2 linked regions of the Homo sapiens genome follow. The protein of the gene in region 2 purifies or fractionates together with the protein of the main gene of each other region. This does not show direct contact. Each region holds a gene or a part of one and is shown on either strand. Other genes may lie near its edges.

Region 1 (5,215 bases), on a different chromosome or scaffold from region 2:
AAGCTTCCCACCAGCTCGCCCCTGCAATCTGGAAAGAGCTGCTGGTAGGGAGGTAAAGTGCAAAAACAGTGTATTCCCCAGAGGAACAGGGGTTGTGGGAAGGGGGTGGCTTGGACGTCACGGCAAGGAAAGGTGTTAAGAGTTAGGTACCAACTGGCCAGGCGCGGTGGCTCACACCTGTAATCCCAGCACTTTGGGAGGCCGAGGCGGGCGGATCACGAGGTCAGGAGTTCGAGACCAGCCTGTCCAACACGGTGAAACCCCATCTCCACTAAAAATACAAAAATTAGCTGGGCCTGGTGGCGCGTGCCTGTAATCCCAGCTACTTGGGAGGTTGAGACAGGAGAATTGCTTGAACCCAGGAGGCAGCGGTTGCAGGAGCCAAGATCACGCCATTGCACTCCAACCTGGGCAAAAGAGTGAGATTCCGCCTCAAAAAAAATAAAAAATAAAAAAGAGTTAGGTACCAACTATGAAGCAAGCAAACCAACCAAACCAGAAATGCAGGACTCCTTAAAGGTTCGGAGATAAAGTAGGGGTTGGGGATGGAGTCTCTCTCAGCTGGGATCTCAGGGATCCCTGCCATCAGGGCATGAGGAGGCCTCCCGATAATCGCTTCCCTCATAGCTTCGGTGACTGACAGGCCCTCTGCGGGTGGTTGTGGCCGCTTTCTGCCATAGGCTCTGGGCCAGCCTGAAGCCTTTACCACTTGTAAATTATCTGAAAAGTTGGGATAATATTGCCTTCAAGTGCATCCCAAAACCTCGAGTCTGTGTTCAGAACAAGATCTAGCGTCCTAAATGCAGGGTTTCCTAAATGTTGCACACTGGGTTCATGTGCTCAGTTGTTTTAGAAAGCGGGCAGGATTGTGCCACCATGATGCCCAACGAGGGGACTTCCCAGTTTGCAGACTAAGCTGTGGACATGGAAACAAACTTAATGGAAACATGTGCTTGTGTCCTGTCCTTTTTTTTTTTCTTGAGACGGAGTTTTGTTCTTGTTACCCAGGCTGGAGTGCAATGGCACGATCTCAGGCCACCGCAACCTCTGCCTCCTGGGTTCAAGCGGTTCTCCCGCCTCAGCCTCCGGCGTAGCTGGGATTACAGGCAAGCGTCACCATACCCAGCTAATTTTCTGTATTTTTAGTAGAGACGGGGTTTCTCCATAATGGTCAGCCTGGTCTTGAACTCTCGACCTTAGGTGATCCACCCGCCTCGGCGTCCCAAAGTGCTGGGATTGCAGGTGTGAGCCACCGCGCCCAGCCATGTGTCCCGTTCTTGCTAAATGGCTCACATCACAGGACGAAATTTTGCAAAGCGGCAGCAGCCTGGAAGAAATTCAAGTGATCGAATGTACACTACAGGATGCCCAATGGGGAGAGACTTCAACTCTGATTTTGGGAGATTGAGTGGTGGATTAGGTAGAAGCTGAAATGTGTACATGCCAGTCTGGCACATTTAGTAACTTAGAAGAGGGTACTAGGCTTAGTACCTGAGTGATAAAATAATCTGTACAACAAACCCCCACGACAAGAGTTTACCTATATAACAAACCAGCACATATAAAACAAAGTAGAAGACTGGGGCGGTGGCTCATGCCTGTAATCCCAGCACTTTGGGAGGCCGAGGCAAGCGGATCACCTGAGGTCAGAAGTTTGAGGCCAGCCTGGCCAACATGGTGAAACCCGTCTCTACTGAAAAGATACAAAAATTAGCCAGGCGTGGTGGTGGGCACCTGTAATCCCAGCTACTCAAGAGGCTGACGCAGGAAAATCGCTTGAACCTAGAAGGTGGAGGCTGCAGTAGGCTGAGACCATGCCATTGCCCTCCAGCCTGGGCGACAGGGTGAGACCATGTCTCAAAAAAAAAAAAAAAAAAAAAGATTTGCACCATTTTTACAACATTTCATAAACCTAAAGAGGAAGCCATTTTTTCCTTTTTCATCTTCTCAGGTGAAAGACAAGAAATGAAGTCATTCAGAAAAATAAATGCTCTTGGCCAAGCACAGTGGCTCACGCCTATAATCCCAGAAACTTGGGAGGCCAAGGCGGGTGGATTACCTGAGGTCAGGAGTTTGAAATCAGTCTGGCCATCATGGCAAAACCCCGTCTCTACTAAAAATACAAAAATTAGCTGGGCATGGTGGCGGGTGCCTCTAATCCCAGCTACTTGAGAGGGTGAGGCAGGAGAATTGCTTGAACCCAAGAGGCGGAGGTTGCAGTGAGCTGAGATGGCGCCATTGTACTCCAGCCTGGGTGACAGAGCAAGACTCTGTCTCAAAAATAAATAAATAAATGGTTCCTTAGAGCTCAAAATCCCGAAAGCGAACAAGGTTGGTGGTTTATGGTCCAGGTGGTCTACTGTACCTGCTTACAGGTACAGATTAAATGACCCATCTCAGGATCTACTACTCTCATATAAAGACCCAACATGAACAAACAAAAGTGCTACAAAACCAAAAACATAAAAAGGCACTGTCTCTTCTGGTTCTACATACTTAAGATAAAAAGTAAAAAATTATAAAATCAAAAGACACCACTAAACACCGTGGGACTCGTGACTGATTTTATCAGTTTGGTCCCTAAGACCTTAAGGACACCATTGTGCTAATAAAAAATCAATAACAGAGACAGACCATGCAAAAGTCCCCCTTATGGGGTCCTTAAAAATGGTTCCAGATGGGGTCTCGCTCTGTCACCCAGGCTGGAGCGCGGCAGTGTGATCATAGCTCGCTGCGGCCTCCAACTCCTCAGCTCAAGTGATCCTCCTGCCTCAGTTTCCCAGGTGGCTGGGACTACAGGCATGTGCCACCATGCCTGGATAACTTTTAAAAATTTTTTTGCAGGGCTGGGTGCAGTGGCTCATGCCTATAATTCCAGCACTTTGGGAGGCCAAGACGGGCAGATTACTTGAGGTCAGAAATTCAAGACCAGCCTGGCCAAGATAGTGAAACCCTGTCTCTACTAAAAATATAAAAATTAGCCAAGTGTGGTGGTGCGCACCTGTAATCCCAGCTATCAGGGATGCTGAGGCAGGAGAATCGCTTGAACCTGGGAGGTGGAGGTTGCAGTGAGCCGAGATCACGCCACTGAACTCCAGCCTGGGTGATAGAGTGACTCTGTCAAAAAAAAAAAAAAAAGTAATTTTTTTTCATAGAGATGGTGTCTATGTTGCCCAGGTTGGTTTTGAAGTGATCTTCAAGCGATCCTCCCACCTCGGCCTCTCAAAGTGCTGGGATGACAGGCATGAGCCACTGTGCCTGGCCCCAGGTAAGGTTTTTAAGATGGCTGGCTGTGCTGACCCTACAGAATTCCCCAAGTCATGCTTCCTGCCGTCTCACTGCCACTTCAGTGCTCAGTGTCTTTGCAGCCCCGTCCCTACATTTCTATGCTTAGACAGGAAGGGCACAGAGAAAGCTGGACCTCGAATCTGAAGTGAGGGGTTACAGCACCAGCTCAGATCCTAATTCCCTAAAACGGCTAAGCTATCACTGATTAGATGTGAACAACGAAGGCAAAACAGCAGGGTGTTATTCACACAGTACACCAGGTACACTGTTGATGAATTAAGTCCCAGGGGCATCACAACGAATGCAGAACTGAACACTGTGAGTTTTGATACCAGGAAGAACTCCACGTCGAGTCCCAGGACCCAGCCCGTGGCCCCGCTCACTCTGCCACAAAACACCTGGGTGACCCAGTGGAGACTGACAGCGCTCTGAGATCCGTGAGCACTGATGTGCAGGGACTCCATGGGAGATACTCACTCTGCGGAGGGGCGTGGAGGTGGGGAAGGGACTGGTACTGCTGTGCTGCTTTGGGGGAGCAGGCGGCCCCTCGGGCGAGCTGGTGGAAGAGGGAGAGCTCAGGGACGAATGGCTGAGTACAGAGTCTTCTTCGGGGAAAGATTCCAGCACCTCACTCTCAGGGGTCATGTTCTTGCCTTGGGGTGTGGCTGGAAGGGACTTGATTTGCGGTGGTCTCACAGCCAAGATGTCCTGCAAGACCACCATAGGCACCTTCCCTTTGAACAGGATGCCCCCAGCTTCACTCCAACTGTCCTGCTCCTTTCTGGGGCACATTCTCGGGCCACTCGTCAGCTCCGGGCAGCTCCGTGGCGAACATTCCTGGGAGTCGCCTCTCCTCCCTGCACCTCCACAGCCAACACCCTCCTCCTCTGTTTTGCAAGGAATGTCTGAAAGGGTCTCTCCAGGAAATGCCAACTTGTCGTTCTGAATGGCCTTCAACAACCCCTGCTGATCCCCAGTGTCTTCTCGCTGGCCATTTATTGCCTCCCTGGAGGGAGAGGCTTCAGAATTTAGTTTATTGTGGTCCACAAGACTGTCTGGCTGCTCATTCGAGTCCTCTGTCAAATCAATGATGACTGTGCTCTGGCCAATACTGGTTTCGATTCTATTTCTTAAAAAGTTATCTAAGGGACCCTTCCCGTTGACAAGTTTCGGTCTAAAGTCTATGTCAGAACCCACATGACAGTTGTTTTCCAAGGTGTCCAAAGAGGCCTCTAAATCGGGGCTTTTACTTTGCACAGAAGTACCCTGATCGTCTGACATGTCATCGGCTTTCCCCTTTGGGACAAGATTCAGGCGCTTAAACGGCAGACGGGCTGAAACAAAGACAGAAAGCCATCTCTAGTGAACGTTTAAAGTTACAACCACTCATGAGCTTGAAAATTACTGATTTGTTGGGACATGGGGGTGGGAGATAATTTTAAAGTTTAAAAAGGGACTATCTGGGCCGGGTGTGGTGGCTCATGCCTGTAATCCCAGCACTTTGGGGAGGCCGAGGCAAGCAGATCACAAGGTCAGGAGTTTGAGACCAGCCAGACCAAAATGGTGAAACCCCGTCTTTTCTAAAACTACAAAAATTAGCCAGGCCATGGTGGCACACGCCTGTAATACCAGTTACTGAGGAGGCTGAGGTAGGAGAATCGCTTGAACCTGGGAGGCAGAGGTTGAAGTGAGCTGAGATCCCAACACTGCACTGTAGCCTGGGCGACAGAGACAGACTCCCTCTCAAAAAAAAAAAAAAAAAAAAAAAAAAAAAAGGCCGGGTGCGGGAGGCCAAGGCAGGCGGATCACAAGGTCAGGAGATCGAGACCATCCTGGCTAACACGGTGAAACCCCGTCTCTACTAAAAGTACAAAAAATTAGCCGGGTGAGGTGGCGGGCGCCTGCATTCCCAGCTACTCGGGAGACT
Region 2 (5,215 bases):
GGGCTCTTCGACCCTCGGTCGGCTCCCCTTACCGGGCATGCGTATTGCGGCCAGTTGGGCCTTCGCAAAGTGCTCAGGGAAGTGTAGTGTGCAGGGAAAGTAGGTCACTCCTGCTATCGCCTGGTCCGGAGGTGTTTGAGGACTACAATTCCCAGAGTGCAGAGCGGGCCCTCACCGCCCGCCTCTCCGCCTACGTTTGGGTTGAGTCGAGTTTTCCTAGCTCCTGAGGAACATGGAGTGCCCTAGAAAGGGTCTTCATAGCCGAAAGGGGCCTTGTTGTCAGACCTAAGGTTGACCGGTCTGTGTCTAGGGGGAGATGATGAGAGACTGGGCGCGGTGTTGCAGTCAGTCAGCACCAGTCCTGGAAGCCTTTCAATACACACCCGCCTGTCTGGGCCGCTGCCTCTGGGACCAGCGAGTTGGGGCGGATCCCGTGTCTCACCAAGGAGAGGAGCTGCCTGCGTTTGGCTCTCACTCCCCGGACAGCGGCAGGGCACTCGCATCCACCCGGTCTGTGACACCTGCTGGCCCCTCCACACTTAGTTGAGTCCTGTAGTCCGTCATTGTAGGACAGTTTGCACATTTAAGGCTTAGAGGTGTCTGAGTATCTTTTTGGGTTTGGGGCTCAGTGGATTCCATCACCATTATCCCTCCTTTTCCTCTTTGAAACAGAATTTTCTTTCTGAAAAACCTTCCGGCCGGGTGCGGTGGCTCACGCCTGTAATCCCAGCACTTTGGGAGGCTGAGGCGGGCAGCGGATAACCTGAGGTCGGGAGTTCGAGACTAGCCTGACCAACTTGGAGAAACCCCGTCTCTGCTAAAAATACAAAATTAGCCGGGCGTGGTGGCGCATTCCTGTAATCCCAGTTACTCGGGAGGCTGAGGCAGGAGAATCGCTTGAACCTGGGAGGCGGAGGTTGCGGTGAGCCGAGATCGCGCCATTGCACTCCAGCCTGGGCAACAAAACCGAAACTCCATCTCAAAAAAAAAAAAAAAAAAATCTTCTGGCTAGGCAGTGACTCACGCCTGTAATCCCAACACTTTGGGAGGCGGAGGCGAGCGGATCACGAGGTCAAGATTTCGAGACCAGCCTGGCCAACATGGTGAAGCCCCGTCTCTACTAAAAATACAAAAATTAGCCGGGCGTGGTCCCGCGTGCCTATAATCCCAGCTACTCGGGAGGCTGAGGCGGGAGAATTGGTTGAACCCAGGAGGCGGAGGTTGCAGTGAGCCAAGATGGCGCCATTGCACTCCAGCTCTGGGCTACAGAGCAAGACTGTCTCGAGGGGGGGAAAAAAATCTTCCTTCGCTTCTGACATTAGAGCAGGCAGACACATGCGCGCGCGTGTGACACACACACACACCTTCCTCACATTTTTATCAGAAGTTCTCTCTGGAATCTGCACTGACTGAGGCTTCTTTTGAGCTTCACGCCCCACTTCTTCCCCCGTCGTCTTTCTCCTAGGCACCTGCTCTTTAAAACACAAGTCAGCACAAGGGATCAGAATCCAGGTTTAACTTTGCTGCTGGAAGTAAACAAGTGAGGATAAAATTCTTAGTGAAATTGGACAGAATTTTGCTCTCATATTTGCCCTTTTTAATAGGTTGACAAAAGGGAGATTTTGCTATTGTTAAACACCTCACCATTTTTATTCTTCTTGCTCCCTTTTTCGCCGTTTGTGCCTACACTGGGGTTAGAAAAGATCTTAGTGTCCTCTGCAGCCACTTAAGCGAATCCCTTTACTTGTTCCCTTTATTGACAGGTAGTTATTTCTAAGCTTTCTAATCTTACCATACTTCCATAAATATTTTATATATAAGCTCTAGAATTTGTTCATAGCTTTTTAAAAAATGAACAAACTCCTCTGAATGGCCACTCCTATCTTTAGCTAAAGACAAGCCAGCACCAGTGCTTTAATCCTCTGCTCCATAAGCTTCTTGCAGTCAAAATTAGAGCCTGAGCTGATAGAGCAGAAAATCTCATTCTGGTTGTCCATCATTTTTGTAAGGTTCCACCCCACAGCCATCTGGTCCAGCCTGTTCTCTAATTAAAGAGGCAAAGGTGGCATTATATGCTTCCTTATTTGTGCGGCAACATCACTGAGGTATAAATTGGTGTGCAGCTTTAGTTGCTTATGCTGCAGAAAATGGTTAGCTAGGCAGGGCTGATGACAGTGGTTCTATTGTATTTTGGGGTGGGAGGCTTATTTCCCAATGACTTTGGCCTGCATTTAAAATGCTCTCATTTTGAGGCCGAACTGTTCAGGAGTAGTTAACTTGGAAGGCAATTATGCAGCCAGGTTTGAGGAGGCTTAGAAAGGTGTAGAAACCCTTTGCTCTCAGTGGAAATACCAAGAGGTGCATTTTAAGAGGCCATGCAGTACCTTGGGAGAAGTATCATATGTTGACTTCAGTCTGTTTTAGATTTCAAAAATACTTTGGAAACACTGTCTTTAACAACAGGTTCCATTCTAGGGAACCAGTATCAACTTTCCTCACAACTTTTTTTTCTTTTTTTTTTTTTTTTGAGGCAGAATTTCTCTCACTTTGTCATTCAGACTGGAGTCCAGTGGCATGATCTCGGCTTACTGCAAACTCTGCCTCCCAGGTTCAAGCGATTCTCTTGCCTCAGCCTACGGAGTAGTGGGATTATAGGCACCCGCAATCATGCTGGGCTAATTTTTATGGGGTTTTTTCTTTTCTTTTTTTTTTTTTTGAGAAAAATCACTCTTGCCCAGGCTGGAGTGCAGTGGCGCAATCTTGGCTCACTGCAACCTCCGCCTCCTGGGTTCAAGCAATTCTCCTGCCTCAGCCTCCTGAGTAGCTGAGGTTACAGGCGTGTGCCACCACACCCGGCTAATTTTTTATTTTTAGTAGAGACGGGGTTTCACCATGTTGGTCAGGCTGGTCTCGGACTCCTGACCTTGTGATCCACCCGCCTCAGCCTCGCAAAGTGCTGGGATTACAGGCATGAGCCACAATGCCCGGCTAATTTTTGTGTTTTTAGTAGAGATGGGGTTTCGCCACGTTGGCCAGGCTGGTCTTGAATTCCTGGCCTCAAGTGATCCACCTGCCTTGGCCTCCCGAAGTGCTGGGATTACAGGTGTGAGCCACCACACCTGGCTCTTCACAACTTTTTAGTCTGCTCCTTGTTGGACACCTCTATGGACTATGTGGCCCTTCAGACCTCTGTTCCTGAGAGAAGGCTCATGGTTCTGGTGGGTAGTTTTGTATCTGCTGATGAGCCTGATCCTCATAAACAGAAAGCCCTTTATTCTTTCTACTATTCTTACTTTTTTTTTTTTTTGAGGTAGAGTCTTGCTCTGTCACCCAGGCTAGAGTGCAATGGCACGATCTCAGCTCATTGCAACCTCCGCCTCCTGGGTTCAAGCGATTCTCCTGCCTCAGCCTCCCGAGTAGCTGGGACTACAGCTGCGTGCCACCACGCCTGGATAATTTTTGTATTTTTATAGAGATGGGGTTTCACCGTGTTAGCCAGGATGGTCTCAATCTCCTGACCTTGTGATCCACTCGCCACGGCCTCCCAAAGTGCTGGGATTACAGGCGTGAGTCACCGTGCCCGGCCTCTACTATCCTTACTTTTTATACCCAAAAAAGCCCTGAAATTGGTCTGTATTGATCATTAATAGACATTTGAGGCTGAGGCACGTGGATCACTTGAGCGTAGGAGTTCAAGAACAGCCTGGGTGACATGGCAAAACCCCATCTCTACATAAAAATACAAAAAAAAATGAGGCTGGACATGGTGGCTCAGGCCTGTAAACCTACCACTTTGGGAGGTTGAAGCAGGTGGATCACTTGAGGCCAGGAGTTCAAGAGCAGCCTGGCCAACGTGATGAAACCCCGTGTGTACTAAAAATACAAAAATTAGCCAGGTGTGGTGGTGCATGCCTGTAATTCCAGCTACTCAGTAGGCTGAGGTGGGAGAATTGTTTGAACGTAGGAGGCAGAGGTTGCAGTGAGTCGAGATCACGCCACTGCATTCCAGCCTGGGTGACAGAGACTTCATGTCAAAAAAAAAAAAAAAAAGCCAGGTGTGGTGGTACATGCCTGTAGTCCCAGCTACTTGGAGGCTGAAGTGGGAGGATCACCTGAGCCCAGGGAGGTGGAGGCTGCAGTGAGCTGTGATCCTGCACCCTAGCTTGGGTGACAGAGTGAGACCCTGTCTCAAAAAAAGAAAAAGAGGCCAGGCGCGGTGGCTCATGCCTGTAATCCCAGCACTTTGGGAGGCTGAGGTGGGTGGATCACGAAGTCAGCAGTTCGAGACCATCCTGGCCAACATGGGGAAACCCCGTCTCTACTGAAAAAAAAAAAAATTAGCCAGGAGTGGTGGTGCACGCCTGTAATCCCAGCTACTTGGGAGACTGAGGCAGGAGAATCGCTTGAACCGGGGAGGCAGAGGTTGCAGTGAGCCGAGACCGTGCCATTGCACTCCAGCCTGGGCGACAGAGCAAGACTCCGTCTCAAAAAAAAAAAAAAAAAGAAAGAAAAAGAAAAAAATAGACATTTGAAGAAACTTAGAGATGAAGTCTGTGTTGGAGGCTGGGAAAAGAGGGAAACCAGGGTATTCTGAGTCCTGAGTGTTCTTGTGGAGGGTTTGGGAGAGGCATAGTTGTGGTACCTCTGCTGACTCCCATGTGACCTTCTCTGTTCCTCAGAACTGAAATGAGGGTTAACTAGATTCAGCCACTGTCATGCTGCTCCAGATTGACCCAGTGAGTCTTCTCTGATACATTCACCCCAGAAATCTTTTTCTGAGGATTTAGTCCCAAAAATGCCCCTTAAGGCCGTGTGTGTTGGCTCATGCCTGTAATCCCAGCACTTTGGGAGACCAAGGCAGGCGGAACACTTTAGGTTAGGAGTTTGAGACCAGCCTGGCCAACATGGTGAAACCCCATCTCCACTAAAAATACAAAAACTAGCCAGGCGTGGTGACGGGCACCTATAGTCCCAGCCATTCAGGAGGCCAAGGCACGAGAATCACTTGAACCTGGGAGGTGGAGGTTGCAGTGAGCCAAGATCACGCCACTGCAGTCCAGCCTGGGCGATAGAACGAGACTCAGTCTCCACATACATACATACATACATACATACATACATACATACATACATACATACGTAAAATTAAATTAAATTAAATGCCCCTTAAGAGCCATGGGCCCAGGCCTGAGAATTACAGGGAAATGTGTTGGGG

The links. Proteins that work in one complex are often made in the same cells at the same time.
Region 1: the proteins of TOB2 (region 2) and CHAF1A purify together in Homo sapiens (affinity purification with western blotting, with the first as the bait; one study listed by BioGRID). This does not show direct contact.

The regions. Positions count from the first base shown.
Region 1 is NC_000019.10:4,408,310-4,413,524, reverse strand, and holds part of CHAF1A (chromatin assembly factor 1 subunit A), read right to left. Parts: intron 4,623-5,215; coding exon 3,766-4,622; intron 3,021-3,765; exon of another isoform or gene 3,002-3,020; intron 1-3,001. UniProt on the Homo sapiens protein: Acts as a component of the histone chaperone complex chromatin assembly factor 1 (CAF-1), which assembles histone octamers onto DNA during replication and repair.
Region 2 is NC_000022.11:41,439,407-41,444,621, reverse strand, and holds part of TOB2 (protein Tob2), read left to right. Parts: exon of another isoform or gene 1-510; intron 511-5,215. UniProt on the Homo sapiens protein: Anti-proliferative protein inhibits cell cycle progression from the G0/G1 to S phases.